Linked DNA regions of Homo sapiens. The protein of the gene in region 6 purifies or fractionates together with the protein of the main gene of each other region. This does not show direct contact. Each region holds a gene or a part of one and is shown on either strand. Other genes may lie near its edges. The genes, in order: LSP1, RALY, TMPO, CWF19L1, CAP1, FMNL1 and ARHGAP4.

What was found.
Region 1: the proteins of FMNL1 (region 6) and LSP1 purify together in Homo sapiens (affinity purification with mass spectrometry, with the first as the bait; one large-scale study listed by BioGRID). This does not show direct contact.
Region 2: the proteins of FMNL1 (region 6) and RALY purify together in Homo sapiens (affinity purification with mass spectrometry, with the first as the bait; one large-scale study listed by BioGRID). This does not show direct contact.
Region 3: the proteins of FMNL1 (region 6) and TMPO purify together in Homo sapiens (affinity purification with mass spectrometry, with the first as the bait; one large-scale study listed by BioGRID). This does not show direct contact.
Region 4: the proteins of FMNL1 (region 6) and CWF19L1 purify together in Homo sapiens (affinity purification with mass spectrometry, with the first as the bait; one large-scale study listed by BioGRID). This does not show direct contact.
Region 5: the proteins of FMNL1 (region 6) and CAP1 purify together in Homo sapiens (affinity purification with mass spectrometry, with the first as the bait; one large-scale study listed by BioGRID). This does not show direct contact.
Region 7: the proteins of FMNL1 (region 6) and ARHGAP4 purify together in Homo sapiens (affinity purification with mass spectrometry, with the first as the bait; one large-scale study listed by BioGRID). This does not show direct contact.

The regions. Positions count from the first base shown.
Region 1 is NC_000011.10:1,880,430-1,884,579, reverse strand, and holds part of LSP1 (lymphocyte-specific protein 1), read right to left. Parts: intron 3,149-4,150; coding exon 2,984-3,148; intron 1,162-2,983; coding exon 1,020-1,161; intron 649-1,019; coding exon 556-648; intron 301-555; coding exon 257-300; intron 81-256; coding exon 1-80. UniProt on the Homo sapiens protein: May play a role in mediating neutrophil activation and chemotaxis.
Region 2 is NC_000020.11:34,000,268-34,004,417, forward strand, and holds part of RALY (RNA-binding protein Raly), read left to right. Parts: intron 1-4,150. UniProt on the Homo sapiens protein: RNA-binding protein that acts as a transcriptional cofactor for cholesterol biosynthetic genes in the liver. Binds the lipid-responsive non-coding RNA LeXis and is required for LeXis-mediated effect on cholesterogenesis.
Region 3 is NC_000012.12:98,542,762-98,546,911, forward strand, and holds part of TMPO (thymopoietin), read left to right. Parts: intron 1-1,468; coding exon 1,469-1,588; intron 1,589-1,680; coding exon 1,681-1,776; intron 1,777-2,189; coding exon 2,190-2,300; intron 2,301-3,597; coding exon 3,598-3,686; intron 3,687-4,150. UniProt on the Homo sapiens protein: May help direct the assembly of the nuclear lamina and thereby help maintain the structural organization of the nuclear envelope. Possible receptor for attachment of lamin filaments to the inner nuclear membrane.
Region 4 is NC_000010.11:100,257,325-100,261,474, reverse strand, and holds part of CWF19L1 (CWF19-like protein 1), read left to right. Parts: intron 1-430; coding exon 431-509; intron 510-1,155; coding exon 1,156-1,257; intron 1,258-4,150.
Region 5 is NC_000001.11:40,057,210-40,061,359, forward strand, and holds part of CAP1 (adenylyl cyclase-associated protein 1), read left to right. Parts: intron 1-2,124; exon of another isoform or gene 2,125-2,127; 5' UTR 2,128-2,137; coding exon 2,138-2,249; intron 2,250-2,857; coding exon 2,858-2,961; intron 2,962-4,150. UniProt on the Homo sapiens protein: Directly regulates filament dynamics and has been implicated in a number of complex developmental and morphological processes, including mRNA localization and the establishment of cell polarity.
Region 6 is NC_000017.11:45,231,494-45,235,643, forward strand, and holds part of FMNL1 (formin-like protein 1), read left to right. Parts: intron 1-873; coding exon 874-987; intron 988-1,730; coding exon 1,731-1,804; intron 1,805-2,154; coding exon 2,155-2,238; intron 2,239-2,578; coding exon 2,579-2,707; intron 2,708-4,150. UniProt on the Homo sapiens protein: May play a role in the control of cell motility and survival of macrophages. Plays a role in the regulation of cell morphology and cytoskeletal organization. Required in the cortical actin filament dynamics and cell shape.
Region 7 is NC_000023.11:153,915,889-153,920,038, forward strand, and holds part of ARHGAP4 (rho GTPase-activating protein 4), read right to left. Parts: intron 3,799-4,150; coding exon of another isoform or gene 3,679-3,798; intron 3,396-3,678; coding exon 3,267-3,395; intron 3,166-3,266; coding exon 2,944-3,165; intron 1-2,943. UniProt on the Homo sapiens protein: Inhibitory effect on stress fiber organization. May down-regulate Rho-like GTPase in hematopoietic cells.

The DNA.
Region 1 (4,150 bases), on a different chromosome or scaffold from region 6:
CGATGGCCTGGGTGTATTGTTCCAGCCACTGATCAATCTTGGAGATGGGCAAGTCTGGCTGGGATTTCTTCACACTGTTACTGGAGGGTAGAAGATGTGTCAGGCCCCATGTCTCCCACAAGGCTTCTCCCAACCTGCCCAAGCCTCTCCCAGAGCCCCCCTCGGTCTCCAGATCTCTACCTTGTGACTCCCTTCAACCCCCACTTGGTTAAACCTAAGATCTGAGCCCAGAAAGCAGACAGACAGACAGACAGACCTCTTCTCTATGGAGCGGTTTAGGGACTCGGTCCTGTCGATGAGCTGCAGAGGGTGGAGAGAGACACAGGCCTGCAGCAGCCGAGGTAAAGCCCACCCTCCATCTCCCCAGCTACTCCAACCACTAATCCAACCCCCAACCCTTATATCATGGGGGTTCGCTGAGCACCGGGCAATGGGGGGATAGCAGACAAAAGCCAGGCCTGGGCCTGGTCTTCCTGTGGCTGGCATGTGGGATTGGCCTTTTGGGTATGAGTACGGGAGAGGGGAGAAGATGGCAGGCTTTGCAGCTTAACTTACTTTGGTGGTAGGGCTCAGGGGAGGCGAGCTCTGTTCGATGGTCCCCTCCAAGACCAAGGGGCTGGGTGTCCTGGGCTGCTGACATTTCTGGTGCTAGAAAAAAAAAAACAGACATCCCAAGTGACCCCCTGCTTGTGCCCCTCCTGCCCTGCCCAGCACCTGTGGGAACAAATGCTGTTCCTTCCTGAGCCCCAGGTTCTCTGTGGCCCTGACGTGCTCCAGTTCTGGAGCTGGTGGGGAGGGACTGAGGAGTCTGGAGAGATGTCTCCGGATCTTGCAAGAGGATCACTGAGCCTTGCCCTCTCTGAGAATGTGGGCCCAGAAGGGGCTGCAAGGTCTAGGGGTGTGGGGTGCTGACCCACTCTGGGCTAGACCCACAGGGCCCACAGAGTGGTGCAGACAGCCAAGGCAGACTCATCCCTGGGGTGGGGGTACACCCAGACCCTCTGAGGTGGAGCCATCACCTCCTCCTGTTCCTCCTCAGCCCCTGCGGCCCCCAGGTTGTCCTGGACAGTGTCCTCTGGGCCTGGCCCCTCCTTGCTCAGACTCAACTCCTCCAGGTGGACTTCATCACTGTCCTCCTTTTCGTAGGCATGCAGGCCGGGCCTGTGGGTGGAAAGGGAGGCAAAGCCGTTCTAGGGCCATTGGATTGCTTGGTTGACCCCTTCCTTTTTCCAAGCCTCAGTTTCCCCATCTGTAAAATGAAGGTAGTCAGGCTACTTGAGTGCCAAGGGATCTGAGACCCAAGCCCATTGGGAAAGAAGGTCCAGTGGCCTCAGAGCCAGCGCAGTCTGCTTGGGCCCCTGTGTCAGGGCCTGAGGCCCCTGGGGAACTGCCCAGTCCCTGCCAGACAGGGCTCTACAGACTGAGGGTCCCCCAGGCACTGAGGCTGGGTTCAATCCCCAGCTTTGTGGCTGGGCCTCAGCTTGGCAGCTGCTTGCACACCCGGTTGGTCTGACGGGGTCCCCGCGAGGCCGGGCTGCTGGGGCCACCACTCCTGCTCTGCTCCCTGTGGGGGCCCTTGGGTGTTTGGGGGACTGGAGGCTGGGTCATTTGGAGGGCTAGGCAGGGGTAGGGGCCAGGTCACTGAGGAGCAGGGCCAAGGGGCTGCCGGCTGCGGGGGAGGGGAGGCCAGCCAGCTGGCAGCTTTGAGCGGCTCTGCATTTGAGCAGGACTGAACCTGGAGGAGAAGATGGGAAATTCTCGAATTTTCCATGATTTCAGGCCCCTGGGTGTGCGTGCCAGCCAAGACCCAGACCCACCCGCCCAAGGTGGGCAGGGGTCTGAGCCAGCAGCAGCCACACAGAGGGGCCATTCAGGAGCAGGTCTGTGCAGCCAGGCAGGTGCAGGGGGTGGGGTGGCGGCCGCAGAGCTGGGCTCCACGGAAGAGTCAAAGCGCCCCCTGCTGGTGGGAGCAGCCTCGCCCGCCTAGGCCTGAGGCCAAGGGAGAAGGGAGCTGCCCCATCTCAGAAAAGCAGAGCCGCTGACTCCCAAGCACGTAGGGGGGAGACTGAGGCCCAGGGAGGGGGGCGGTGGGCACTGCGCCAGGCCAGGACCAGTGGTTCTTGGGGAGTGGGAGCCTGGTTGTAGGAGGACAAGGGAGCGTCGCTCAGCAACACTGGTCCCTAGAGCTCCAGGCTGGTTTAGGGCCTCAGAGGGGCCAGGAAGGACCCTGACCAGGGAGAACTGTCAGCCCAGCCATGGGCTCTGGTCCCACTCAAGGCAAGGGGGTCCTGAGCAGGGCTGGGGTCCCAGATGGCCCAGGCCCTGCAGGGCGGGTGGGGTCAGCCCCATCATGGCCACAGATGACTGAGAGCGGCAAGGACCCCGAGCAGGGGTAGTGAAGTGGGGCTCGGGAGCAGCCCCTGTTGGGCCTGTTGGGGTTGAGACAGGCACACACATCCCCACATCTGGAAAGTGCGTCCTCCCGGCCGACTCTCCGGCATGCACATCTGGAAATACCTGCTCCCCTCCGTGGGAATGGAGATCAGCCAGCCCCGAGGGAGGAAGGGGCGGCGGCGGGCTCTCAGCCTCCATTACGGAAGCGGCCGCAGCTGTGTGCTGATGTGGCAGCACCCGGCCTGGCCTCGCAGCTGCCTGGATGGGGCCCAGGGGCCCTGGGGAGCCCCAGAATGAGGTTTCCTCGCGGCCCCTCGCCGGCCACCATGCTGTCTCGCCCTCTTCCTCCCTCCCCTCCTGTCTCCCCCTTTCCTGGCCATGGGGGCATTTCAGGCTCTGCTTGGAAAGGGGAGGATGGGGTGGCTGCTCAGGCGCAGGTTGAGGGCCTGAAGGGAGCTCCGCGGTGCCCTGCTCTGCCCAGCGCCCGCCCTCGAGGTCCAGAGGGAGCCCTGCTCTGCCCAGCGCCCGCCCTCGAGGTCCAGAGGGAGCCCTGCTCTGCCCAGCGCCCGCCCTCGAGGCCCTCACTCACCTGTCCTCTTGCTCCCCCTCAGGACTCCTGCACTGGGGGGGCTCTCCGCTGTCCAAGGCGCCCTGCGCCCCCTCGTGCTGCTGCCGCTGCTCTGGCCTCTGGGACCAGTCGCCAAAGCCCTCGTCCTCATCCAGTTCAGGGGCCTCCGAGGGCTTCAGGCTGAGGCTGAGGGTAGCAGGGGGGAGCTTAGGCCTGGGCGGCTGCTGCCTCCTCTGCCCAGGGCCCACACTCACCTCACGGCGCCCGCTCAGGCCCTGGACTCCAAGTGTGGGAGACCCTGTCTGCCACAGAGCTGGCTCTGGGCTGTGTCTCCTGTGGTCAGAATACCTGAGGGCAGGGCTATGCCTCCCCCGTCAGTTCTGGGGCAGCCTGAGAACTGTGCTTCCTCCATCAGTCCAGGACTCCTTGAGGCTCAGCAGGGCTATGCCTCCTCCATCAGCCTGGGGCTACCTGAGGGCAGGGCTATGCCTCCCTCATCAGTTTGGGGCTCCCTGAGGGTAAGGCTGTGCCTCTTCGATCAGTGTAGGGCTCCCTGAGGACAGGGCTGTGCCTCCCCTGTCAGCCTGTGGCTCCCTAAGAGCAGGGCTGTGCCTCCCCCATCACTCTGGGACTCGCTAGGGCAGGGCTGGGCCTCCCCCGTCAGCCTGTGGCTCCCTAACAGCAGGGCTGTGCTTCCCCCATCAGTCTGGGGCTCCCTAGGGCAGGGCTGTGCCTCCCCCATCATCCTGGGGCTCCCCAAGGGCTGCCCTGGTCCCCACATGAGGACCCTACATGAGGTCCTCCTAAGCCCCGACTTCTCAGGCCTCCCATGTGGCAGGGGGAGCCCCTGGATAGCTGGGGCCCTTGGTGGGGGTGGCCAAGGGCCTGACTATGGTGACCGCTGAACCCCACTCTGCCCAAGGCTGCTGACTTGGAGAAAATGGAACAAAAGAGGCCAGAAGGAAGGGAAGCATTATTGGAAAAACAGCCCAGCCCAGCCGCGGAGGCCTCCTGGGCCCAAGGAGGAAGCAAGCCAGCCTGGCCGCCAAGTTGGACGTGGCTCTGTGAGTCACTGGCGGGGGAGTCTGGTGGGGGGCTCGGCCAGGCTGCGTGGCTGGGGTCAGAGGCGGTCCGAGCAAGGGCCAGGGCACGGACACAGAGCCTGGGTCAGCGCCCAGGAGGCAGCCA
Region 2 (4,150 bases), on a different chromosome or scaffold from region 6:
AGTGTGTGGGCTGGACTAAGGTCCTTTCTTTTTATAGCCCTGTTTCCTCATAAAATCATCTGGGGGGGTCCCTGAAATTCTATAAAGGCCCAAAGAGTGGGGGTGGGGAGGTAGGGACAGAAAAAGGGTTGGAGGTCCCTGTCTCTCTCACTTCTCCCCTCTCTTCGAACGAATAAGTAGAAGCAGGTATCTGGCCAAGTATTAATGTTGGTCATCTTTTGTTTCCACAGCCTTGCCTTATTTCCTCAGTGTTAGTGTCTTCTGTCATTTCATAATGGCTTTCATGGTAATCAATGTCCTGTACCTCCTGGGAGGAAGGAAGGAAAGATGGGATATTGTCCCTGGGCTCTAGTCTCCATCTCCAGAAGAGCCATTTAAGACATCCACTGCCCCCTGTTCTCTATTCTGGGGTTGGGGTAGGGGGTTGTGGCTGAATACTTGGGTTTCTTAGAGGGTACATACTTGAGTTTCCTAGGGAGTGCTCTACTAACTAAAGTGCAAATCTGGCTATCTTCCCAACACACCAATGAGTTTGACTGGGGAAAATAGCAGTCAGTGGGCTTTTGTTGCTTGCCAAACCCATGTTAATTGTAATTATCTAATATTCTGTGGGATCTCTGTCTTCCTGTCTGTGAAACAAGGGAATTGGACTAGATAATCTTGAGTGATATTTCTACCTTTTTACAGTTTTGTGGAAGTGGCTTGAGAATTTATCTCTGGAAGGAGAAAGGGCTTTGCTAAAGTATTGAGAGTATCTCAGAGGGTTAAATTCTGGGTTCACAAAAGATACCTTTCAGTATATAAACAGATGGATATTGCTTTTTAGAGTGGACAGATTGCTGAAAAATTGCTTGTGAGATGAATTTATCAAATTGTATGCTGAGTTCCATTATAAACTTGGAGCTGTAGCCTCATGGGACAAACTTGGAGTCCAAGACTATAAAAAAATTACATTAAAATATGTAGCAAACTGTTTAAAATCACATAATAAAGGAAAAATAAAAAACATTTTAAGATTTTCACACAATGGTAATAATGGAAAAACACTAGACCAGAAACTTGCATTTCCTAAGAGCTTTAGCTTATGGAGTAGATGCCTCTACTGAGGTTACCTGGCCCTTGAAGTGCCATCTGTAGAGACTGAATAGCTCTGTTATTTGTCAAGGTAAGACTCATTGCTTTATTCCAAGTAAATATTCTCTTTTAGAATGCCAGGTTTGGAAGCTTAATGTTATTGGCCAGATTTTCTTCATTCCAGAGGCATTTATCTGGTATTTAGCTGTCTCCTGTTTATTTTATTAAGGATTTTAATAAGCTTAGTTAACGGTACTGCTTACATGGTGTCTCTTGATCTATTTGTCTAGTTTCCTTTGAAATTCTTTGTGTTAGTGAAAGCAAGCCCAGCAGTAGATTTAAAAGGGTCATTTCCATAACTTCATTTATCTAGATTTGGGTTTTTTTGGTAAGAGATATGACCACACTATACTGAGAAATCGAATGTTGTTTCCTTTTTTTTTGAGACGGAGTCTCGCTCTGTTGCTCAGGCTGGAGTGCAGTGGCATGATCTCCGCTCACTGCAAGCTCTGCCTCCCGGGTTCATGCCATTCTCCTGCCTCAGCCTCCTGAGTAGCTGGGACTGCAGGTGCCCACCACCACGCCCGGCTAATTTTTTTGTATTTTTAGTAGAGACGGGGTTTCACAGTGTTCGCCAGGATGGTCTCGATCTCCTGACCTGGTGATCTGCCCACCTCGGCCTCTCAAAGTGCTGGGATTACAGGCGTGAGCAGCCGCGCCTGACCACGTCGTTTCCTTTTTACCTGAAGCATTAATTTAAGGCTTTGGAATTTTGTTTTTGCGGATACCTGTAAGGTGGTACTGAGGAATGGTGCTGCTGCCAAAGTAATAATGAGGGCTGTGCGTGAATCAGTTGAGCACAAGAATAACTTCTCTTCAGACTTTAAAGATTCACCCTAATTGATTCTTACACCAATTAAAATCAACCCTTACTAAAATTAGGGTTCAGAGGAAGTTACTTAGTTGCCGTGGCATGATTATTTATGCTTGGGAGTCCCAACAGCCTTCCATCCCTAATCTCAACCATTCGTTCCAGGAATTTGGAGTACCTCCTATATGTTCTTCTTATGGAAAACATAAAAACCAACAAGACATAATTCCTGTCCACAAATTACTTTCAGTCTTGAGAGGAAGACAGATAAGTAAAGCAAATCCAGCCTGCCGCCCTGGCTCATATATTTGGATTGAGGGTTCAAACGGAAAATAACATAATTGGTGGCTGTATCAGTAGACAAGGAGACCAGTTTGATAATCTGACTTCCAGTGTGTAGACTTTATTTTTTTGGCATTCCCTTCTCTCCCTTCTGTTTTTTACAGATATTTATCCTCTGTTGCTAAGGTGTCCAACACCCAGTGTGTAAAGTCAAGAATATTAGAGTAGGGGACAACATTTCCTTTCAGGTTTAGGTGTCCAGATATCTGCATCTGGACACCCACACAGTTCTCTGGCTGGCTTCAGGAAGATTTGGTATTGTCTCGCTTCTTATGTAGAAATGAAGAAAATTAAGTTTCATGTTGAATTATTTTAAGTTTTATTATGCTCTATTTTGAAATAAAATAGCTCTATTTTGTATGCAGGTGGAATTATCTGAGGTGTGGTTTCTGGCATTTGATCAGTCTGTGATTTGATAATTGTGTTTATATTGTAGTTCGTGAAGCCCATTGCCACTGCCAGCCGCCTTTGAACACTTTGCAGCAAGGAGCCCTAGTAAATGGAAATGGTGGGCACATTGAGGCTCTCCTGGTTTTGAAGGGCTCTTCCCTCTTTCCTACCCTTCAGAGAGAAATATTACTTGGGATGCTGTGTTGTGCTCCCGATTTCTTCCAACAATTTAGCATTGCCTGTGGGGTCTGGAATAATAAGGCCATGTAAACTGGAGATGTCATCTTCTCTCTCTTTGAAGTTCCATTTTCTCATCTGTGAAGTGGGGTTAACACTCCATATCTTGCCTTCCTCACAATGGTATTGTGAGGAGCAAATTAGAACGTTGTAAAATCACATGAGACAATTTATATGTGAAGAATCCATCAGTCATTTGTCAGTGGTAATAGGTAAGTGGCAGAATTTTCCTTAAGAGGGGAGATCGATCTCTTTGTAGGGAGCAGGGAGAGTGATCTCAGCTGGTCTCTGGGATTGGGAAAAAGTGTGATGAAAGCATCTGGACAGGGGCAATGATGGAGCAAAAGACTGGAGGTGAACTGTTCAGCGGGAACAGTGAGTAAGTGTTCTCTAACCTCATACTGTAAGTCCTAGGTTAGGCATATGTTTACCTTTGGTAAATATGCCAAACAGTTTTTTTTTTTTTTTTTTTTTTTGAGACGGAGTCTCGCTCTGTCGCCCAGGCTGGAGTGCAGTGGCGGGATCTCGGCTCACTGCAAGCTCCGCCTCCCGGGTTCACGCCATTCTCCTGCCTCAGCCTCCCAAGTAGCTGGGACTACAGGCGCCCGCCACTACGCCTGGCTAATTTTTTGTATTTTTAGTAGAGACAGGGTTTCACCGTTTTAGCCGGGATGGTCTCGATCTCCTGACCTCGTGATCCGCCCGCCTCCGCCTCCCAAAGTGCTGGGATTACAGGCGTGAGCCACCGTGCCCGGCCTCCAAACAGTTTTAAAAGGTCTACCAGGTTACATGGTTAGTGATGAGAAAATTGCTGTTGTTCTGTGTTGTTGTAAATACTTGGCATTGTCTATCTTTTTCATTTGAAGCCATTCTGGTTAGTAGTTATAGATATGAATTTTAAGAACCATACTATGAATTCTCACATAGCAAGTACCATAAAGGGGTACAATGATTGGGAAGTTCAGAAGGGGAAGAGATTGCTTCCTTTGTACATGGAGGAGGGGCAGAGGGGGAGTTCCCAAGGAACATTTGTGGACCAGTGAGTATTTGTGCTGGACTTTGTAGGATAAGGATAATGACCATCTGTTGTCCAGGACCATTTTAATTTCTAATATTCTGTCTGGTTGTACTTACAGATTATGAAATACCAATCAATATTGCCATGTCTGTACCTTATCTCCCATACTATGCAGAAGCAACACCCAGTTATCTTTTCTCAACCGATGTGCTTCCCTT
Region 3 (4,150 bases), on a different chromosome or scaffold from region 6:
GCAGGAGAATCACTTGAACCTCGCAGGTGGAGGTTGCGGTGAGTGGAGATTGCACCACTGTACTCCAGCCTGGGCAACAGAGCGAGATTCTGTCTCAAAAAAATAAATAAAATAAAAATTAAAAAGCAGTTACTCTGTGTATGTCTGTAATTTGTTTACAAGTTTCTCTTTTGACAATAATTTTGCATTCAGCAAATACTTCCTAATTGATAGGATGAGGAACCCAGAGATTCAGATTGTGACTTAAAACTCTTATAATATCAATTCCAAATATAGATAAATACAAAACCATGATTTATGAGACTATGTCTGTAACTTGTGGGGTTTTGGTAGTATTACATCCAGCCATTTAGGCATATTTATTGGATGACCACTCCTGTCACAGGATTAAAGTTTAAAAAAAAAATCTGTCTTTAATAGACATTGACTTGGACCTAAAACCATCAGTAATCTAGGTTAAATATTGGCGTGAAAGCAAAAGTGACAACAGAAGGACACTCTACTATAATACTGATCATTGATGGATGTTCTGTAGTTAAAAGAATTTAAAAGAATCATCTGGTAATAGCGACTTCAAAACTGAAAACCTTAAACTACTTGGAATGCGGAATTTCGGGCCCTACAGCTACAGAATCAGAATCTGCATTTAACAGAAGCTTCAAGTGATTGATAGGCACATTACAATTTAAGAAGAACTGATCTAATGGGTTTTAAACCAGTATGTAAGAAATGCTGGATTCTTTAAAAATGATCAGTGGAACATAGAAATTAATCTGAGACTGAGAATTAATCTGAGGCAGCTGTTTTCTGTCTTTCTGTAGTGACATGGATAGCATTGAGATTTGAAAGTGACGTTAGGCTTGCATATTCATTAAAGAGTGACCACAGGGTTTTTGTGGCTACCTAATTTTGTATCTGTTTCCAAGAAAAATTTGACACCTGAGAATTTTTTAGTTCAAATAAGCTATATGTGGGATTATAATTTAAACTGATTCTACTAAAATGATTATAACCATATGAAAATAATAATGTTTATGCTAACAATTACAAAAGTTTGTATTTTTGTTTTAAAAGGAAACTGACTTATAATAGATGACTTTTTTCTAAGTCATGATCAGTCTGCTTTTTGTTTAGACAGAGATGTAGCTCCAATACTAGAGCCAAATAGCACACAGTGAGTCAAAAAGGGAACTGGTGATAGTTGATGTGCTTTTTTTCCCATAATGTTTATAATTTGTGAGCTACTATAGGTGGATTCTTTAGTGTATTTTAGCACTTTTTAAGTGTTTCCTGATGCCTAAATATCAGTTCAATTAATACATTTAGGAATATTTTGAGGACATAGCCTTGTTTGTAAATGCTGGCATTTGGAGACTTCTATTTCATGGCTTCTCAGTGTGCCAGTATGGCCGTTATTAAAGTATTTGATGTTAGAATATGACTTTTTAATGTGTTGATGCTTGAATAGAGCTATTCTCAAGCTGGAATAACTGAGACTGAATGGACAAGTGGATCTTCAAAAGGCGGACCTCTGCAGGCATTAACTAGGGAATCTACAAGAGGGTCAAGAAGAACTCCAAGGAAAAGGGTGATGCAAGGCTTATTCCTTGGGTTTTCAGATTTGTAGGGTTTTAGTATTATTTTATATTTATTGTTTTTGTTTTGTTTTCAAACTAACAGGTGGAAACTTCAGAACATTTTCGTATAGATGGTCCAGTAATTTCAGAGAGTACTCCCATAGCTGAAACTATAATGGCTTCAAGCAACGAATCCTTAGTAAATATGTTTCATAAACTATACAAGTGGTATTCTTTGTAAATTACCCTTTAATTGGAAATGGGGAGGTGGTGAATTTTGGCAAATCTCAAATTTACATGTTTTTTTTTTTTAACAATTTTAAACTGATTTTCCCCATATAGTTCTGAATTTTAGAATTTTCCTATAATATCCAATTTATGTAAAGAAATCTAATTCATTGTACAAGAAAGTATAAGGATATTTTTTGTTAAAATATTTGAAGAATGAGGCTTCATATGTGAGGCACTAAGTTGTGTTTGTAGGCTGTGTTGCTTAAATCTTTACTAAGGGAAAATTTCTAATATTACAGAGATAAAATATCTTTCTTTTCTTTTTAAGTGTCTGTGTTATGTTTGGATAATTCTGAGTCTGAATAATTTGAATCTTGGCAGGTTGTCAATAGGGTGACTGGAAATTTCAAGCATGCATCTCCTATTCTGCCAATCACTGAATTCTCAGACATACCCAGAAGAGCACCAAAGAAACCATTGACAAGAGCTGAAGTAAATGAATACAATTTAGATCGATGCTATCATTGATCTTTCAAAGAGGAAATATAAATATTTGTTTGTTTTTTTTTTTTTTTTTTGGAGTGGGAGGGAGCAGAGCTTTCTTTATTGGGTGGTGTGTGTAAATATGCATAAATTATTTTAAGGACACTTTTATTAGTGAAAACAGAAATTAACTAATATAGTTTGACATGCTAATACTATCCTCTTGCCACTGTATCCCTCTTAAGTTCCAGTTTTCAAGGGAGTGGTCATTTCTGTTCTGCTTATAATATGTTCTGTTTGTCATGGATGCAAGTTTGAAAGTGCTGCTGGGCTATGAGGGAGGCTACACTTTCTTTTGTTGACGGGTCAAATAAGAGACTTTAACATAACTTCATGTGGTGCTGGAATGGGTTAACTCCTGTGTAATTAAGCTTGAAAGTACTAACTGCATGGTGCATTTTAATTTGAATGAATCTTTACAAAAGGAGCCGAAACATTTATTATTTTGTTCTGGACATAAAGGTAAACAGTAAAACAAGCTAAACATTATATTTTTTTTAATTTGGGCATATTGCATTGACTATAATTTTAAAACATATAGTAAAGTTTGCTAAAGGTTCATGTTAAGTATCTTCTGTATTTTATCTTTTACTACAGAATTCTTAATAAATGAAGAAACAGTATACTTTTTTTTTTTTGAAACGGAGTCTTGCTCTGTTGCCCAGGCTGGAGTGCAGTGGCACGGTCTCAGCTCACTGCAACCTCCGCCTCCTGGGTTCAAGCGATTCTCCTGCCTCAGCCTCCTGAGTAGCTGGGATTACGGGTGCCCGCCACCACGCCCAGCTAATTTTTGTATTTTTAGTAGAGATGGGATTTCACTATGTTGGTCAGGCTGGTCTCGAACTCCTGACCTCAGGTGATCCACCCGCCTCAGCCTCCCAAAGTGCTGGGATTACAGGCGTGAGCCACCGTACCCGGCCCAACAATATACTCTTAATAGTAAAAAACAAAATCAATGAGGGAATTAGCATTGCCATGTTAGATTACTGAATTTTTTCCCCCCAGTTATTTAAATGTGTGGCAGTTTTTCACTCCAATAACCACATATATAAGGTATCTTCAAGAAATTTGAAGAGAGCCTTGGAAGCATGTGGATACCTAAATAATAATTTAGAAATGGCAGCTGTAAAATCTATGATAGATTTAAAGGCATTTTGTTCTCTAAAACTTACTATTTATGTTTTAATTATTGCATGTTTACACTAAATTTTAACTTGTGGTTGTTTGTTTGTCTGTTTCTTATTAGGTGGGAGAAAAAACAGAGGAAAGAAGAGTAGAAAGGGATATTCTTAAGGAAATGTTCCCCTATGAAGCATCTACACCAACAGGAATTAGGTATTCAGATACATTTAAACAAGTACTAGTGTATTCTAGTAGGGAATCTTTATTTTTAATTCTTCATCACAAAGTTACTGTACTTCTGCTCAGAATTAAGCTGTTTTTTTGGAGCCAGGTACAATGGTACATGCCTGTAGTCCCAGCTACTCAAGAGACTAAGGCAGGTGGATTGCTTAAGCCCAGGAGTTCGAGACCAGTCTGGGCAACATAATGAGACTCTGTCTACCCACCGACTTTTAAATAAATAAGTGAACGAACTGTTCTTTTGGGAGCAGTTTAATTCCCCTAAGCCCACCAGTAAATATTCTTGAAAGTTGAATGAGTTTCAAAATTGCGATTGGTAAATGGAGGATTTTAAATAAATCACTTACTTACTACTTAAATTCATATGTTAAAATCTAAACGAAAATCTAGTGAGAAATAGTTTTTCCCCCCTAAGTTTCTCTTTTCTAATTGAAAAG
Region 4 (4,150 bases), on a different chromosome or scaffold from region 6:
TTTTATACCTTGTATTTCTCAGATTCTAATATTTTAAGTTTTTTTGTTTCACACGGGGATTCTTTAAAGATCTATTTCTATGTGACTGTATATTCCAGGGAAGGATATGTGGAGAGAGCCATGAATGGCAGAGTGGGACTGGGAATTTGAGGAGCACTTGAATTCTAACTTACTTTAAAAGTTTAGTTCCTTGACTCTCTCTTACCCATCTCTAACTTGAATTTGACAGCCAAAGAGCCAAAACTTAATAATTCATAGAATCAGTAACTGTTAACAGTTGCTGCTAAAGAATTGTATATTGAAATCTGCAAATTGATTAAGAATTAAAAACTGATTTGAAACTATTAAATAACTAGTTGAATATTACTATCAATTATGTACTGTTTGATATTTTAAAATCTCATATATCTGTTTAAAAAACTCATTTTAGCTGCTGTTGTGTGTAGGAAATTTCTTTGGCTCCACCCAAGATGCTGAATGGGAGGAGTATAAGACTGGCATCAAGAAAGGTATAGAAATTATTTTTATTTAACATATGATTTCTAATAAAATTTCAAGGGCCAGAGTTCTTGCAGAGTTGTTTTTCATTATTTAAGAATTTAAGAGTTATTTTCAGTATTTAAGAATTTAAGTTGCTTTTCATTATTAAGACTATCCGGCGCAGTGGCTCACACCTGTAATCCCCGCACTTTGGGAGGCCGAGGCATGTGGATCACCTGAGGTCAGGGGTTCAAGACCAGCCTGGCCAACATGGTGAAACCGTGTGTCTACTAAAAATATAAAAATTAGCAGGGCATGGTGGCGCATGCCTGTAATCCCAGCTCCTCGGGAGACTGAGGCAGGAGAATTGCTTGAACCTGGGAGGCGGAGATTGCAGTGAGCCGAGATTGCACCACTGCACTTCACCCTGGGCGACAGAGCAAGGCTCTGTCTCAAAAAAAAAAAAATAAAATAAATAAAATAGCCAAGCTACAAGGTTGGGTGTAGTATATCCTTAGTGGATAGCTGTTCCACATTTAGGATTGCTAAATATGGGGAATGTGAATGCATGGACTATTTACTTTTAATATAAGTATTTTTTCTATAGAGAGGCATATCTTAAGTTCTAAAGCAGATCTGGTAACTATATGGTGTCATGTCTGTTTCCCTCACTAGCTCCTATTCAGACATATGTGCTTGGTGCTAATAACCAGGAAACAGTAAAATATTTCCAGGATGCTGATGGATGTGAATTAGCTGAAAACATTACTTATCTGGGTAAGCTGATACTTGTTGTATTTTTTTTTTGTTTTTTGTTTTTTGTTTTTGAGACGGAGTCTTGCTCTGTCACCCAGGCTGGAGTGCAGTGGCGCAATCTTGGCTCACTGTAACCTCCACCTCCCGGGTTCAAGTGATTCTCCTGCCTCAGCCTCCTGAGTAGCTTGGATTACAGGCGTGTGTGACCATACCCGGCTAATTTTTTTTATATTTTTAGTAGAGACAGGGTTTCACCGTGTTAGTCAGGATCATCTCGATCTCCTTACCTCGTGATCCGCCCACCTCGGCCTCCCAGAGTGCTGGGATTACAGGCGTGAGCCACCGCGCCTGGCCGATATTTGTTGTATTTGTAATGAACATAATATAGTGTTCTCAGGAATTAGTCTCCCAGGAAATTTTTGGCTAGATTTTTCAGTGATTGCAGCCTGAGATAATGGGGTTTGGAGGGTTTTTTCCCAGAGTCTGTATATGTGCTGCTGTGCCCTTAGGACAATGCCTTTAGGACAGTGGCATTTTTTCTTTATTATTTCTACCACTTAGCCCCAATATCGTTGCGTTCCCACAACCCGGTACACACTTGTTTAGCCAACTGGAGGGATAAACTCCTTGTCTATAGTATATGGGATACTTAAGGTATAAATTATGTTCACACAAAGGAAATTTCATGTATGTGGCTTTACCATACAATCTTGCTAGGTATATACAGCTTACTTGTTAATGAGCCTCCCAACTATTTATAGCTCTAGGTTTCACTCTAAGGTTTTGGCAACTCAGGTTTTTAGTGCTGTTCTTTGGGGGCTTTTTACTCTTTTTTTACTCTCCTTTTTCTGGTTCTAGGTACACTCTTCAGTTCCAGCTTAAAGTTGTTTCCTCCACAGCCCTCTGTATTGCTTTTAGTGGCTCTTTCAATGTCTGGCTGTTTTCAAAAGCACTGTCAAATTTTGCTTTTGTTTTCCCCCCACCTGCTGGCAGTCTGCTGCCTCTTAGATCATTCAACTCTTTTTTTTTTTTTTTTTTAAGACAGTGTCTTGCTCTGTTGCTCAGGCTGGAGTGCAGTGGCATGATCTCGGCTTACTGCAACATCCGACTCCCTGGTTCAAGTGATTCTCCTGCCTCAGCCTTCCGAGTAGCTGGGATTACAGGCACGCACTACCATACCCAGCTAATTTTTGTATTTTTAGTAGAGACGGGATTTCACCATGTTGGCCAGGATGGTCTCGATCTCCTGACCTGGTGACCCGCCTGCCTCAGCCTCCCAAAGTGCTGGGATTACAGGTGTGAGCCACTGTGCTCGGCTTTTTTTTTTTTTTTTAGTTGAATTTACTATTCTTCACATTTCCTCCTTGTTGGTCTTATTTCTCTAGAAAACTTCTTCATTTCCTTTGCTGTAAATGTCCTCTCTCTCCTTCCCCATCATAGTTCATCTTGGCCTTTAGTCTTTATTTGGCTATGGCCCTCCCGTTACCAGTCTTATTTTGCACTAATCCTGTGGGACTTCTTTAAGCAAAAATTGAAGGAAGGACTTTATTTGTTTTGTTGTTTTAATATGGAACTCTTCATGAATTTGCATGTCATCCTTGTGCAGGTGCCGTGCTAATATTCTCTTTATCTTTCCAGTTTTAGTATATGTGCTGCTGAAGTGAGCACTGTTTAGTTTTAACTACACATATCAGATACGCATTTTGAAATTCTGTTGTAGATTTTAACATGAGCCTGACTTATGCAGTTCTTGGTATAGTTTGTAGATTTGGATTAAGGGCATTACTGTAGATATTTGGCAGCCATTTTACTATATGAATTTAGTGCCAGGAAAGGAAAGAGCAGCTAAGGTACTTGGGTTATTTCTGTGAAATAGATTTTTTGGATCCAGTAGGAGGATCAAGCAGTGAACTTGGTAGTGAACATGTGATAGTGAGCTTGAAATACTGGTAGGACATCCAACATATAGTTGGAAGTGAGAGTTATTATTATTATTTTTTGAGATGGACTTTCGCTCTTGTTGCCCAGACTGAATTGCAATGGCATAGTCTTGGCTCACTGCAACCTCTGCCTCCCGGATTCAAGCGATTCTTCTGCCTCAGCCTCCTGAGTAGCTGGGGTTACGGGTGTGTGCCACCATGCCCGGCTAATTTTGTATTTTTTAGTAGAGACAGGGTTTCACCATGTTGGTCAGGCTGGTCTCGAAATCCTGACCTGAGGTGATCCAGCTGCCTCAGCCTCCCAAAGTTCTGGGATTACAGGCATTAGCCACTGTGCTGGTCCGAGAGTTCTTTCTAGAGTATCAGTGTTGAAGAGTATAGGCTTTGGAGAGTTGGTCCCATAATGATGAAAAATAGAGCTGAGAAGAGGATCAAATTATTAAGGAAGAAATACAATCAGAAGGGAAGCAGGTTGATGATAGTACCTTGGTGGGTGGGGATGGTATATCTTCATCTAGGGGGTAGGAACAAAGACATAAAAGTGCTTAGAGGACTGTTTGAGAGGTAAAGATATTGTCAACTTCATGGAATCTACTGAAGATAACATAGTTTCAGGAGAACATTGGCAAATATAGGGTGACCTTTAAGAGAGTGATGGGAGAGGGAAACTGATTGCAGGGGGTTAAGGAACTAATAAAGTAGGCTGGGCGTGGTGGCTCACACCTGTAATCCTAGCACCTTGGGAGGTCGAGGTGGGCAGTTCACGAGGTCAAGAGGTTGAGACCATCCTGGCCAACATGATGAAACCCCATCTCTACTAAAAATAGAAAAATTAACTGGGCATGGTGGCGGTCACCTGTAGTCCCAGCTACTTGGGAGGCTGAGGCAGGAGAATCACTTGAACCCGGGAGGCGGAGGTGGAGGTTGCAATGAGCCAAGATTGCGCCACTGCACTCCAGCCTGGCAACAGAGCG
Region 5 (4,150 bases), on a different chromosome or scaffold from region 6:
ACATGTTTTAATAACAGAACTGAGTGGTATCTGTTCATGGAAGGTAGCTTAGGAGTTTATTGCGTTCCTTGCCTTTTCCCCTGGACTTACAGTGTGGTGGATTGTATATATATGTGAGTCTGTCTCTTGATCAGTATGCATAATGGAACAGGGCAGGAATTCAGATATCAGTTGATAGTGTCATAACATTAGGGAAAGTATGTTGACTGCTTATGGTCTGCTCTATTTGAGAGTAGGACATAGACCTGGAGGCTTCTGCTGCTGCTGCAGGCCAAGGAATGGAAAGGTTTGTTTGGTTCTCATTCTCATTTTTTTTCTTTGCTTCTCTTTTAAACAACACTCTCTGACAAGTGATTGGGCCCACAGAGACCAGAGCCTGTACACAGAGAATGGACAGAGACTATATTGTCTTCCTTACTTTATCTTGTGAGCTGCTTATCTCTTCCACAGGGAGGACAATGTGTTAAATTGAGATAATTCTGGCATGCTGTCATCTTTGGGGGAATCATAATTGCTGTTGTCATTTTAGGCAGCTTCAAGGGAGTTGAGTTCATTCAGCTTCAGTTACCTGAACTGAATTCAGTTGCCTGAATTGACGCTTTTGTGAAATGGAATCTTTCCAAGTCAAAGCTTGGATTGAAATTTCACTGACTGGTTTTTATGAGATCACTTAGGGTCTCAAATACTTTATGTAGAGGTGCATTGATCATATTTTACACTTATGTGTGACTTATGGGCAACTTTTAGCACCCTTATCCCTCTGGAGTTTTGGAATGCTATTTGTGAGGTTTATAACTTCATAAATATTTATTGAACATCTACTACCTGCCAGGTAGTAGTCTAGATGGTAGAGTATACAGTAAGGAACAAGCTATATAAGGTCCTTTCTCTGTTGGAGCTTACTTTCTTTGGGATATTAGACATTGAATTAGGCTATTTCAGATAAGATAGTACTTGTGAAAGATCTATAACAAATTCTTTTGGATGTGTCTAGTGTCCTTCCCTACTGCATGTCCAGATCTTTCTCATCTTCATTTGAAGGCTGGCTCAAATGGCAGCTTCTCCATCATATCCTTATCTGATCCTTCCAGCTGATATATTACTCCCCTCTTTGAAATCTCATGCCTCTCTATCAGCAACTTTCTTATGTCACCTTAACATTTTTTTCTATTTGTTTCATAGTTGTTAGTGCATATGTTAAGTCTCCCCATTAGACTATAAATTACTGAGGGCAGGCCGGGCACAGTGGCTCACGCCTGTAATCCTAGCACTTTGGGAGGCCAAGGCGGGTGGATTACTTGAGGTCAAGAGTTCAAGACCATCCTAGCCAACACAGTGAAACCCTGTCGCTACTAAAACTACAAAAAATTAGCTGGGCATGGTGGCGCACACCTATAACCCTAGCTACTTGGGAGGCAGGAGAATCCCTTGAACCCAACAGGGTGGAGCTTGCAGTGAGCTGAGATCCTGCCACTGCACTCCAGCCTGGGTGACATTGTAAGACTTTGTCTGAAAAAAAAAAAATTATTGAGGGAAGAGTAAACATCCTATTCATCTTGGTTTGGGATATTTCACATGCAGGCAGCAGGATGTTGTAGGAAAAAAACACACTGAACTTAGAACCAGAAGGATCAGATAAGGATATGATGGAGTACTGGCTTCTCTATTCACTGGCCGTGTGACTAGACAAGTCATTTAGCTTCACTGAAACTAAGTTTTCTATCTCTAAGCGTGTAGTAATCATCCTTCTATTCCTGAATAGTTGTCGGGAGGCTCAAACTGAGATAATGTATGTGACTATCCTTTGCAAATTCTAACTTTCTACACACAGTATCATAGTAAATATTGAGTATTTGAATGAGTAAGCATTTACTTTAGTGAACACCTTTTCCTGAGCAGTTCTCTTGCTTAATGAGGTCTTTTGATTTTGTAAATATGCTACTTTTTTATCTGATATTTTTGTATTGTTCCATTTTGCAGATGATATCTAATTTTATTAAATTATTCTGTTCCTGAGAATTGGCATCCTCTTCATCCACCTGGGGATGACCAGGAATTTTCTGTTTTTTTCTCTGTAGGTGCTATTTAATATTTAAATAACAAATGACATTTGATCTGTTTCAGCAGGTGGTCCATTATGGCTGACATGCAAAATCTGGTAGAAAGATTGGAGAGGGCAGTGGGCCGCCTGGAGGCAGTATCTCATACCTCTGACATGCACCGTGGGTATGCAGACAGTCCTTCAAAAGGTAAGCAGTCCACAGCCCAGCAGAATGCTTTCTTTGAGCGTCTTGGCCTGAAAATTTTCTATTATTCTCTCCTTTGGCGCTAACTTCCCAAAACTTAATCTAGAAAGTTTACCTTTTGTAATTTGTATTGCTGTGAACAGATAAGAGAGGAAATGACTTGTACAGGGAGGCCTGTGGTTAAGTTATTTTAACACAAGAACTTCCTGCTTGTGCAATATTTCCTGCTCTTTCTTTAGCAGAATGACTCCAATGTAAGTCAAATGACAAGTGATAATAAAATTCCTCTCTCCAAACAATTGGCAAATTGGACATTTTGCACATGCACCAGTTGGAACATAGAATGTTAGCACTAAAAAAAACCTTGGAGGATCATTTTGTTTATTTTCATTTTATAGATAAAGAAAATTAAGCTCAGAGAGGAAAAGGAATTTAGTCAGGGTCACACAACCAGTTAGTGGTGATACTGGACCTGGAACCCAGGTTTCCTTACTCCTGTTCTGTATCCTGTTGACTGTATTACCTTGCCTCCCCACTTTCATGTAGAAGCACGTTTTAAAGAAGCCTCCTTCTGATGCATGGCTGATTCTTTGTGGTGTGTTTGTCTTTAGCAGGAGCAGCTCCATATGTGCAGGCATTTGACTCGCTGCTTGCTGGTCCTGTGGCAGAGTACTTGAAGATCAGTAAAGAGATTGGGGGAGACGTGCAGAAACATGTAAGGATGTTTTGCCTTTTTCCCCTTCTTTTAAGGACTAACAGCTTTCTTCAGTCAGCCAAGGTCCTCATCCTTGGTTTAAGAGCTCCTTGAGAAGTTCCTCTTGGTTTGGGGCATTACACATGTTCTTTCTCTTTTGCCTGTACTGAGGAGTTCAGTCTAGCCACAGAAACGATTCCTCATTTTTTTCTAGGCCCCTTGCTTTTATCACGTATTTATACAGAAAGCTTGCTTGGTACATAAAATATGGTTCTGTTCATCTTTGTAGTGAAGAATATGCACCAGTTTGATCCCAACATATTACATAATCAAACCTACAGTGGCTTATTTAAAGGAGTCATTATCATGACTTAGCATTTATAAAACTATGCTTGATAGTTATTAGTTATGCTAATGTGGGTTATTTTCACACTTAACCCACAGCAAGAATATGAAGTAGGCAATGACAGGTGCCTTTCCTCCCACCTTCCTTTATGCCTCCTACGTCATCACCACCACCCCCCACCCCCACCCCACACTCACATATACATTCTACCTCTATTTTTGGGACCCAAAAACCTTCCTGCTAGCTCACCGAATTATAAACAGTAACCATGCTTGGGAACTTCTTCACCTAAACCTTTCTCGAAGACTGGTTGCTTGGCTTTTGGAAAATCTATTTTGAGCCTCTCAAATACCATCTGTTGCCAATGGTTTTAGCTCTAGAGAGTGGGACTGGGACTTTAATAAGGGTGTGGAGGCTTGCATTTTTACTTAATACAGTTCTGTAACATTTGAAAAAACTTTAAAACATTTATCATTTGTATTTTAAAAATGCAAATCCAGAAAAAATAGATTGCTTTCTTTGAATTTTTGTATTTTAATAGTGCTTACAGTCTCATGTTTCTTAAATTCTTTTGACTGCGAATGACCCTTAGAAAGAAAGAACATATTCGTAACTGAGATAAAAGTTTCACAAGATGATATTTATACTACTTCTGCTGTACTTTTTTTTTTTTTAACTTTTTATTTGGAAATAACTTGAAGTTGGTGCACTGCACTCATACTTTTGTTCCATTAAGCTCACTAAATTGATTTAATTATTTATTAATGGGTCATGGTATCTGGCATTTGAGAGATAGCTTTAATCTAAAGGAGTAAATACCTTGAGAATTTTCAGCAGAAATTTAGGCCTTTGCCTTTACTCCTG
Region 6 (4,150 bases):
AGGGGTCCCCTTGGAGCAGCTCAGCCTGACATCTCAGAGGTTGGGGGCTCAAAGGGCTGGAAGAAGTGAAAGTCTGAGGGGTGGCTCGGCGAATCTGAGGGGTTTGGGTTGGAAGGGTGGGGGCCCCTCTGGGGAGGGGTCTTTGCCGTGGTCCCTGCCTCTTTGTGTGAGTGGCCGCTGGAGCCTGCAGTGGGGTGGGGGGATTAGGAATTGCATCACTGAGCACAGGAGAGGAGCACGCAGGTTCCTGCCAACGCAGATGTGCAGGGCGGCTGGGTCCGAGTCCTACCCAGGTGCTGGGTCCCCTTCACGAGGCACCTCCAGCCGTCCTTCCCCGCCGTATGCCAGCTCTGGTCCAGGGAGGGCACCACCTGCTGGCTAGACTGAGTTCCTTCCCACCCCAGGGCGGGGCCTACGGCAGGACTGACCCCTGCATAGTCCACCCCAAAGCTGTGTCAGGGCTGTGGCCTGGGAGCCCATACAGGAAGGGCAGGCTAGGCCTAGGCCAGGGGTTTTTAAAGTGGCCCGATGCTAGCTGGGCGTGGTGGTGCACACCCGTAGTCCCAGCTACCTGGGAGGCTGAGGTAGGAGGATCGCTTGAGCCCGGGAGTAGGAGGCTCCAGTGAACTATGTTCGTGCCACAGCACTCCAGCCTGGGCCACAGGGCAAGAAAAGAGAAAGATAAAAGAAAAGAAAAAAAAAGAAAGTGGCTTGGTGGACTGTTTGGGTTTATACCTTTGGTATTTCAGAGGCGTCTTAAGAAAGCCTGGGACCTCAGATCGGAGCTGAGAATGGGACACTGGGACGAGAACTGGTCATTTGCCCTGGGGTAGCTCTGGCTGGTTTTCTGTACACCCCATTCCATCTCCCCAGGAGCGGTTTCAAGTCAAGAATCCCCCCGCAGCCTACATCCAGAAGCTGAAGAGCTATGTGGATACTGGTGGGGTCAGCCGAAAGGTAGCAGCTGATTGGATGTCCAACCTGGGGGTACATGTCTCCCCTCTTTACTCTGTCCCTTTCCCCCACATTTTCCAAGCTCTGGGCAGCTGGAGTAACTGTGTGTACAGACTTTTCTATGTGCGTGTGTGGGTGCATGTATGAGTGTGTGTGTGTGTTTGTGTGTCTGTGTATTTATAGGGGAATGAGAGTGCCCTGGGTGTGCACTTTAGATATTCCTCTGTACATCCTGTGTGTGCTTACATGGACACATTCTGTGTACTTATACTGTGTGTATACACATGTGCAGCCCATATGTCCATACATAGGTGTGTGTGTATACTATGTGTGTACTTTGTCCACTTATGGATGTGTGTGTGTACCATTGAGTCCATATCTAGGAGAGAGAGAGAATGTGTGTGTGTGTGTGTCCATGTATGGATGTGTGGATATTCTATGTCTGTATTTAGAGTGCAGGTATATGGATGTTCATGTGCTGTGTGTGTGTGTGCGCACACACACTCTGCCTCTTTGTGTGTGTGCATGTGTATACCTTGTGTGCCCATGTATCGGGGGTGTGTGTACCCTGCTTGTCTATGTATGGGGGAGCACATGTAGCCTGTGAGTTCTTATTCTGCTGGGCAGGTGTGTGGAGGTGGTGGGGGAGGCTGAGCATGAAAGGCCACTTGTGCCAGTTGGAGGAGGGTGGGCGCTGCTGCCTGCTGCCTCAGGACTTGGTGGGCCTGTGGGAGGCCGGGCTCCACCCACCAGCCTTCCCTGTTCTCGGTCCCCAGTTTAAGAGGCGAGTTCAGGAGTCCACGCAGGTGCTACGGGAGCTGGAGACCTCCCTGAGGACCAACCACATTGGGTGAGTGAGGGCTCAGATCTTCCTCTCTGGGCCTAGGAAGGCTCTGCTTCCAGGCAGCTCCTGGAGCTTCCCCTTCCTACTCCCCCTGCCCCCTGCACAAGGCTGTGCTTGTGGACCACCTCCTGGAGGTGTCCAGGACAGCTTCCCCTCCCCTTCCTGCCCATGCTCTGACTGGCACCTTGAGGCATGGCTGGGCTGTGGGACCCACCTGAGTCTCCCAGAATCCTTTGGTATCATTGGGTCTTTGGGGGTTGAAAGGGCACCCCAGGGGTCCTTGCTGTCCCTGTTCTGTGCCCATGTGGGGCAGGACCTCCTTTCTGGCTGGAGCTCAGGGAGCCCTGTGCCCACAGGTGGGTGCAGGAGTTCCTCAATGAAGAGAACCGTGGCCTGGATGTGCTGCTCGAGTACCTGGCCTTTGCCCAGTGCTCTGTCACGTAAGCCCCCTGCTCCCAGCCCTCATGCCGCTCCTCAGAGCTTTGATCCCCGTCTCCCTGCATCTCACCCACTCCCCTGGCCAGTTTCAAGCCAGGCAGCCCGAGCCTACCCTGGAACCCTCCACTTGGCCTTGAGCGATGCTCCTTCCAGAAGGCCTGCCCCCGACAGGGAGGGGTGGCCTCTCTTCCACCACTATGTTCAGCACAGTGCCAAGAACACAGCCTCCTCCTCCTGCTCCTTAGTCTCACCTGCAGGTCTGTCTCTCCTTGCGTTTCCTCTGCCCCCTCTTAAGTGGCCCCTGCAGTGTTGGCCTCCAGCCCCATTGCATCCTGTCCCCAGGTATGACATGGAGAGCACAGACAACGGGGCTTCCAACTCAGAGAAAAACAAGCCCCTGGAGCAGTCTGTGGAAGACCTCAGCAAGGGTCCACCCTCCTCCGTGCCCAAAAGCCGCCACCTGACCATCAAGTATGTGGGCCACAAAGTGGGGTGGTGGGAGAACAGAGAATTCAGCCCCCACACTGCTGCATCTAGCCAGCCCACCCCGGGCCCTTGGGGTTGGCGAGAGGGGTAGCCATGCATTAGGGGTCCGAGTAAGGGACTCATACAGAGTTTGGGACACCAGTATGTTAAGAAGCCATCAGGGGTGGGGCTGGGTGCTGTGGCTCATGCCTGTAATCCCAGCACTTTGGGAGACTGAGGTGGGCAGATCATTTGAGGACATGAGTTTGAGACCAGCCTGGCTAACATGGTGAAACCCCATCTCTACTAAAATACAAAAATTAGCCGGGTGTGGTGGTGCACGCCTGTAATCCTAGCTACTCAGGAAGCTGAGGTGGGAGAATCGCTGGAGCCCAGGGGATGGAGGTTGCAGTGAGCTGAGATCGCACCACTGCACTGCAGCCTGGGTGACAGAGTGAGACCCTGTCTCAAAAAAAAAAAAAAAAAAAAAAAAGAAAAGAAAAGAAAAAAGAAGCCATCGGGGTGGGCACCTAGAAGTTGGAGTCTGGATGGGTCTGGGATAAGAAGGGAGTTTCTGGGTTGGTGGGACCCCTCTTGTATGCATCTAATCCCCTGTTTTCTCCCATGCGGCCTCCAGGTGTCCCCCTTCTCCCCGGTACGTAGCCATCTAGGGGCAGGTGCATGCCTGGCTGACTCCCTCCCAGGGTGGTGGTGGGTTAGGATGAGGTATTCAACTGATGTCCCTGGGTTCAGTGCTGTGGCTGGGTTCCTCCATCCTAACACGGGCATCTTGCTGGGAGGCAGGAAGCAGGCAGTAGATGGACCCTAGAGCATCTTGTGAATCCCTAGCTTCCTGCTTTGGGTCTAGAGGATTGATTGCATATTAAGCCTCAAACTTTCACAATATGTTATTTGTCCATTCATGCAATTATGCATTCAGCAAACATTTTTTTAACACTTAGTATGTATTAGGTATATGGCAGGTGCCCAGGAGACAGGTCACCCTGCCCTCAGGGGCCCACAGTCTAAGTGGGGGACAATTTAGTGTGACAGGCTGTCATGGAAGTGTGCCTGGGAGCTCTGAGAAGGGAGGTGGCCACCACTTGGGACATCAGGAAGGCTTCCCAGAAAAGGTGACGCTGGAACTGTGTCTTACAGACAGATACAGGCTTTACAGGCAGCCATGGGAACAGGGAAGAGCATTCCAGGCAGAAGGAACAGCATGAACAAAAACTCTGACATATTAGCACAATGACAAGAAAGGGTGATGTGGCAGGAGGGGGTGAAGGCGGGGCCTCCTGGTATTACTGGGAATGTGATAGAATCATCAGAGAGACTGACATGTGGAAGTCCCGGTCGGCAGTTCTGCAACAATGAAAACATCACACATTTGTTGGCGAAGAATAAGGGAGTACAGTCATATAGCACTTACTATGTGCCAGGCACTGT
Region 7 (4,150 bases), on a different chromosome or scaffold from region 6:
AGGATATAGCAGGGATTTTGGACTCAGGGACACTGGTCCCAGATGAGGAAGATGAGAGAACACAGCAGCCCCACCATCGGAAGCTGGCCTGGTCCTATCAGCCCGGCCTCAGTGCTGTCCTGCTGAACACCGGAAATGACCCAGAGCATCAACATCAGGCAAGGCCACTGTGTGACCTTGATGGGCGAAGACAGAAACAAGACCACTCTGCGATCACGCATGAGTGAGGACAAAATCAAGAACTTCTTCCGAGCCACAAAATCATCCCTCCATCCTGGCTAATGTAAGTGACTGTCACTTCCTTGCATCACTTCAGCCTCCATCACTGTCTCTTTCTAGATAAGATTAATCAAGACATCCAATCATACAATTACCCTGCTTCCAGAAGGCATCCAATCCAGGACCAAGCCCCACTTACCTGGGCCCTCCCCCAGATCCCCTAAGGCAAGCCCAAGTCCTCTAAGGCCTTTCCACTACCCTCTCACTGAGAGGCCCCAGGCTCCCCACGGAGCAGGGCTCCCTCCAGCAATGGAGATTATAGGGCTGTTCCTGCTAGGCTTTGGCTGGAGGGTGTGGAACTAAAACCAGGTAGTTCCAAGGAAATCCACACAGCAGAGTGAGCCCCCAGCCCTCTCACCCCCTCTCCTCCCTAGACAGGGTCAGAAGAGTTTCTACTGGGGAAACTGGCCGGGCCAGGAGGAAACACCACAGACACCCACATTTGTGGGGTATGTGTTCAGGCCTCTTCTTAAATATGAACTGATGGCCAAGAATCACCAAACAGACACGATCAGCAGAAAACTAACTATTTGCTCTCTGGAAAGGATATAGCAGGGATTTTGGACTCACGAACAAAAGCAAGAAAATAGAGCAAATGCAGGAACAGGAGAAAACAAAAAACATTTCAGGCCGGGCATGGTGGCTCACGCCTGTAATCCCAGCACTTTGGGAGGCTGAGGCAAGCAGATCACCTGAAGTCAGGAGTTCGAGACAAGCCTGGCCAACATGGTGAAACCCTGTCTCTACTAAAAAATAAAAATAAAAGGGTCGGGCACGGTGGCCCACACCTGTAATCCCAGCACTTTGGGAGGCCGAGGCAGGCGGATCACCTGAGGTCAGGAGTTCAAGACCAGCCTGGACAATATGGTGAAACCCTGTCTCTACTTAAAATACAAAAATCAGCCAGGCGTGGTGGCGGGCACCTGTAGTCCCAGCTACTCAGGAGGCTGAGGCAGGAGAATTGCTTGAACCTGGGAGGCAGAGGTTGCAGTGAGCCGACATTGCGCCACTGCACTCTAGCCTGGGCGACAGAGAAAGAGTCTGTCTCAAAAAATAAATAAATAAAATAAATTAAATTTAAAAAATTAAAAAATTAGCCAGGTGTGGTGGCAAGTGCCTGTAATTCCAGCTACTCGGGAGGCTGAGGCAGGAGAATCACTTGAACCCAGGAGGCGAAGTTTGCAGTGGGTCAAGATCGTGCCACTGCACTCCAGCCTGGGCGACAAGGGGGAAACTCCATCTCAAAAAAAATAAAAGCTTCAGAAAGATTCAAGAAGTACTGTATTCATGAAATAAGAATAAAGGGTTGGCCGGGCACAGTGGCACACCTGTAATCCCAGCACTTTGGGAGGCCGAGGCAGGCCAATTGCTTGAGCCCAGGAGTTTGAGACCAGCCTGGGCAACATGGTGAAACTCCCTTGCTACAAAATATAGAAAAATTAGCCTGGCGTTGTAGTGCAGGCCTGTAGTCCCAGCTACTTGGGAAGCTGAGATGGGAGGACCAGAAGGTTGCATCTGCAGTGAGCTGAGATCACATCACACCCCTGCACTCCAGCCGAGGGGACAGAGTGAGACCCTGTTTCAAAAACAAAACACAACAAAACAAAACAAAGAATACAGACATTTTCAGATGTGCAAAGTCAGGAAACCCTTGGTGAAGGTGTCACCAAAATAAGGGTATCAAACTAAGAAAGCTGCTGCCGTGGAATCCGGAAACAGAGCACTGGGCAGAAGTGAAGCACTCCAGACTGGAAGGCTCTGGGGGAGGGCGCAGAGGAGAAGGTTGACCTCACAGGTGCCTGGTGTGGAGGACAGTGCTGGGACGAGGTAGCGATCAACTCCTAGCAATGGGCATGTTCTAGCAAGCAGCATTCCTGAGGCAAGAGAGTTATAAATTCCAGAAGAAAAGGAAAAATTGTCCAAGGAAGGACATGTGATCCTAATACAGTACATGGCTCAGCTGCCAACAGTACCTGTTGTCATGGTGATTTAAACATTGAATGTTAATTTAGCCAAAAATTCTGGGATAAGCCCACTGGGAGAACAAGATGCAGGGAAGCGTGTGGTGGCTGTGAGAGATGCTGGTGGCACTGGGTCATCATTGGCCAATGGAAAATGGCTGCTTGACACCGGGAGGTGGGTGGCTGTTTCTGGGGGTGGGAGCTGGGAACGGGAGGGGTGGGTTAGGGAGCAGCTGTGACGCCATCGGAAGCCCTGGTGATGCCGGACTCTTCGTAAAGTTCCAAGTCGGCCCGAAAGGGGCCCAATGTAATCCCAGATCATTGACAATGCCCATCAGGATAAACTGCTGCAGGAAAAACTAGCTCGACGGAGAAGGATAAAGAAGCCCCATTCCATCTTACTGCCAAGTTTGTGTCACGAAATTTAAAAACACAGAGAAACCAGCCTAGAACAATGTATGGGCAGCTACACGGCTGCCTGCTGCACGGTTTGAACAGTTAGTGTCTTGCCCTCCTTGGCCATTGCGGGGGTGCACCCTTGGAGTGAGGCTGCAAATGGAAGTGGGACACTTCTCTAGCTGCCGCACTGCCTGAGACCATGGAGAACTTGGATTCCTGAGCAAAGTGTGGGTCATGCCACTCCACTGCCCACCATTACAGTGAAGGCCAGAGAATGCCAAGCCCAGCAGGGGGTGACCCTCACCTCATCCCCATCATGGGGGTGGTAGTCAAAGCGCAGCGGGGGACAGAAGACGGTAGCATGCACCTCGAGAACCTTGGCTTTGTCCCCTGGAGGATCCAGGGCCTCCACAGCTTCTTCCAGGCTGCCCAGGCCCTGCACTTGGGAGGCTTGGGTGCGGCTCTCAGCGGCCGTGTAGCTCCGGAGCACCTGCCCCAGGGCCAGGTGGAACCCTGTGTCACAGCACTGAGGAGGAAACAAGGAGATGCTTGGGTAGGTCCTGGAGCCACAGCTTCCCAGCCCCGAGGCACCAGGCACCTTTTCCCACCTGCCCACCAAGGACTCACGTCCATGAGGTCCAAGACGTCATGCAGGTAGTAGTTACTGACAGCAGCGTTGACACTAGCCAGGCTAAGCAGGTACTCGTTGCGCGCCTTTGTGCACTTGAGTTTGTGCTCCATGAACTTGGCCTGCCGCTACTCAAGACAATGCAAGCGTGCCAGGGTCACGCACGTGGCCAGCCCCTATCTCTAGCCTTTCATGTAATGCCCATCGCCTCCCCTCCCACTGTGGACAACTACACCTGAACTGGTCAAGCCCAGAAGTCCTGCTGCCTTCCCCACGCCACAGTCCACAGTGTGCTCAGCCCAGTGCCAGGAGGTGACTTGATTCCCCGGCTGTTCACCCGCCACTTGCCTTGGTTCGAGCCACAACATTCCCCACAGAAGTGGGGGATGACACAGAACTATTCACAGATACCTGATGAGTGGAAGGTGCGCACATGGCACCCCACCATGGAGGGTGCACGAGAAACCCAGCTTGGAGCCAGCACACAGGTGCACAGCTGGAAGCGGCCACAGGCCTCTGCGGGGGCCAGAGCTGAGGGGGAACGAGTACCCCAAAGGGTAGGGATAGATCATCAAGAGCCATGAAACAGAACCTGCTGGCACCTGGGTTCTAAAACTGGCACTCTATTTTTTTTTTATTTTTTTTTTTTGAGACAGAGTCTCGCTCTGTCGCCCAGGCTGGAGTACAGTGGTGCAATCTTAGATCACTGCAACCTCCGCCTGCTGTGTTCAAGTGATTCTCCCGCCTCAGCCTCCCAAGTAGCTGGGATGACAGGCACCCGCCATCATGCCCGGCTAATTTTTGTATTTTTAGTAGAGATGGGGTTTCACCATGTTGGCCACACTGATCTTGAACTCCTGACTTCGTGATCCACCCACCTCAG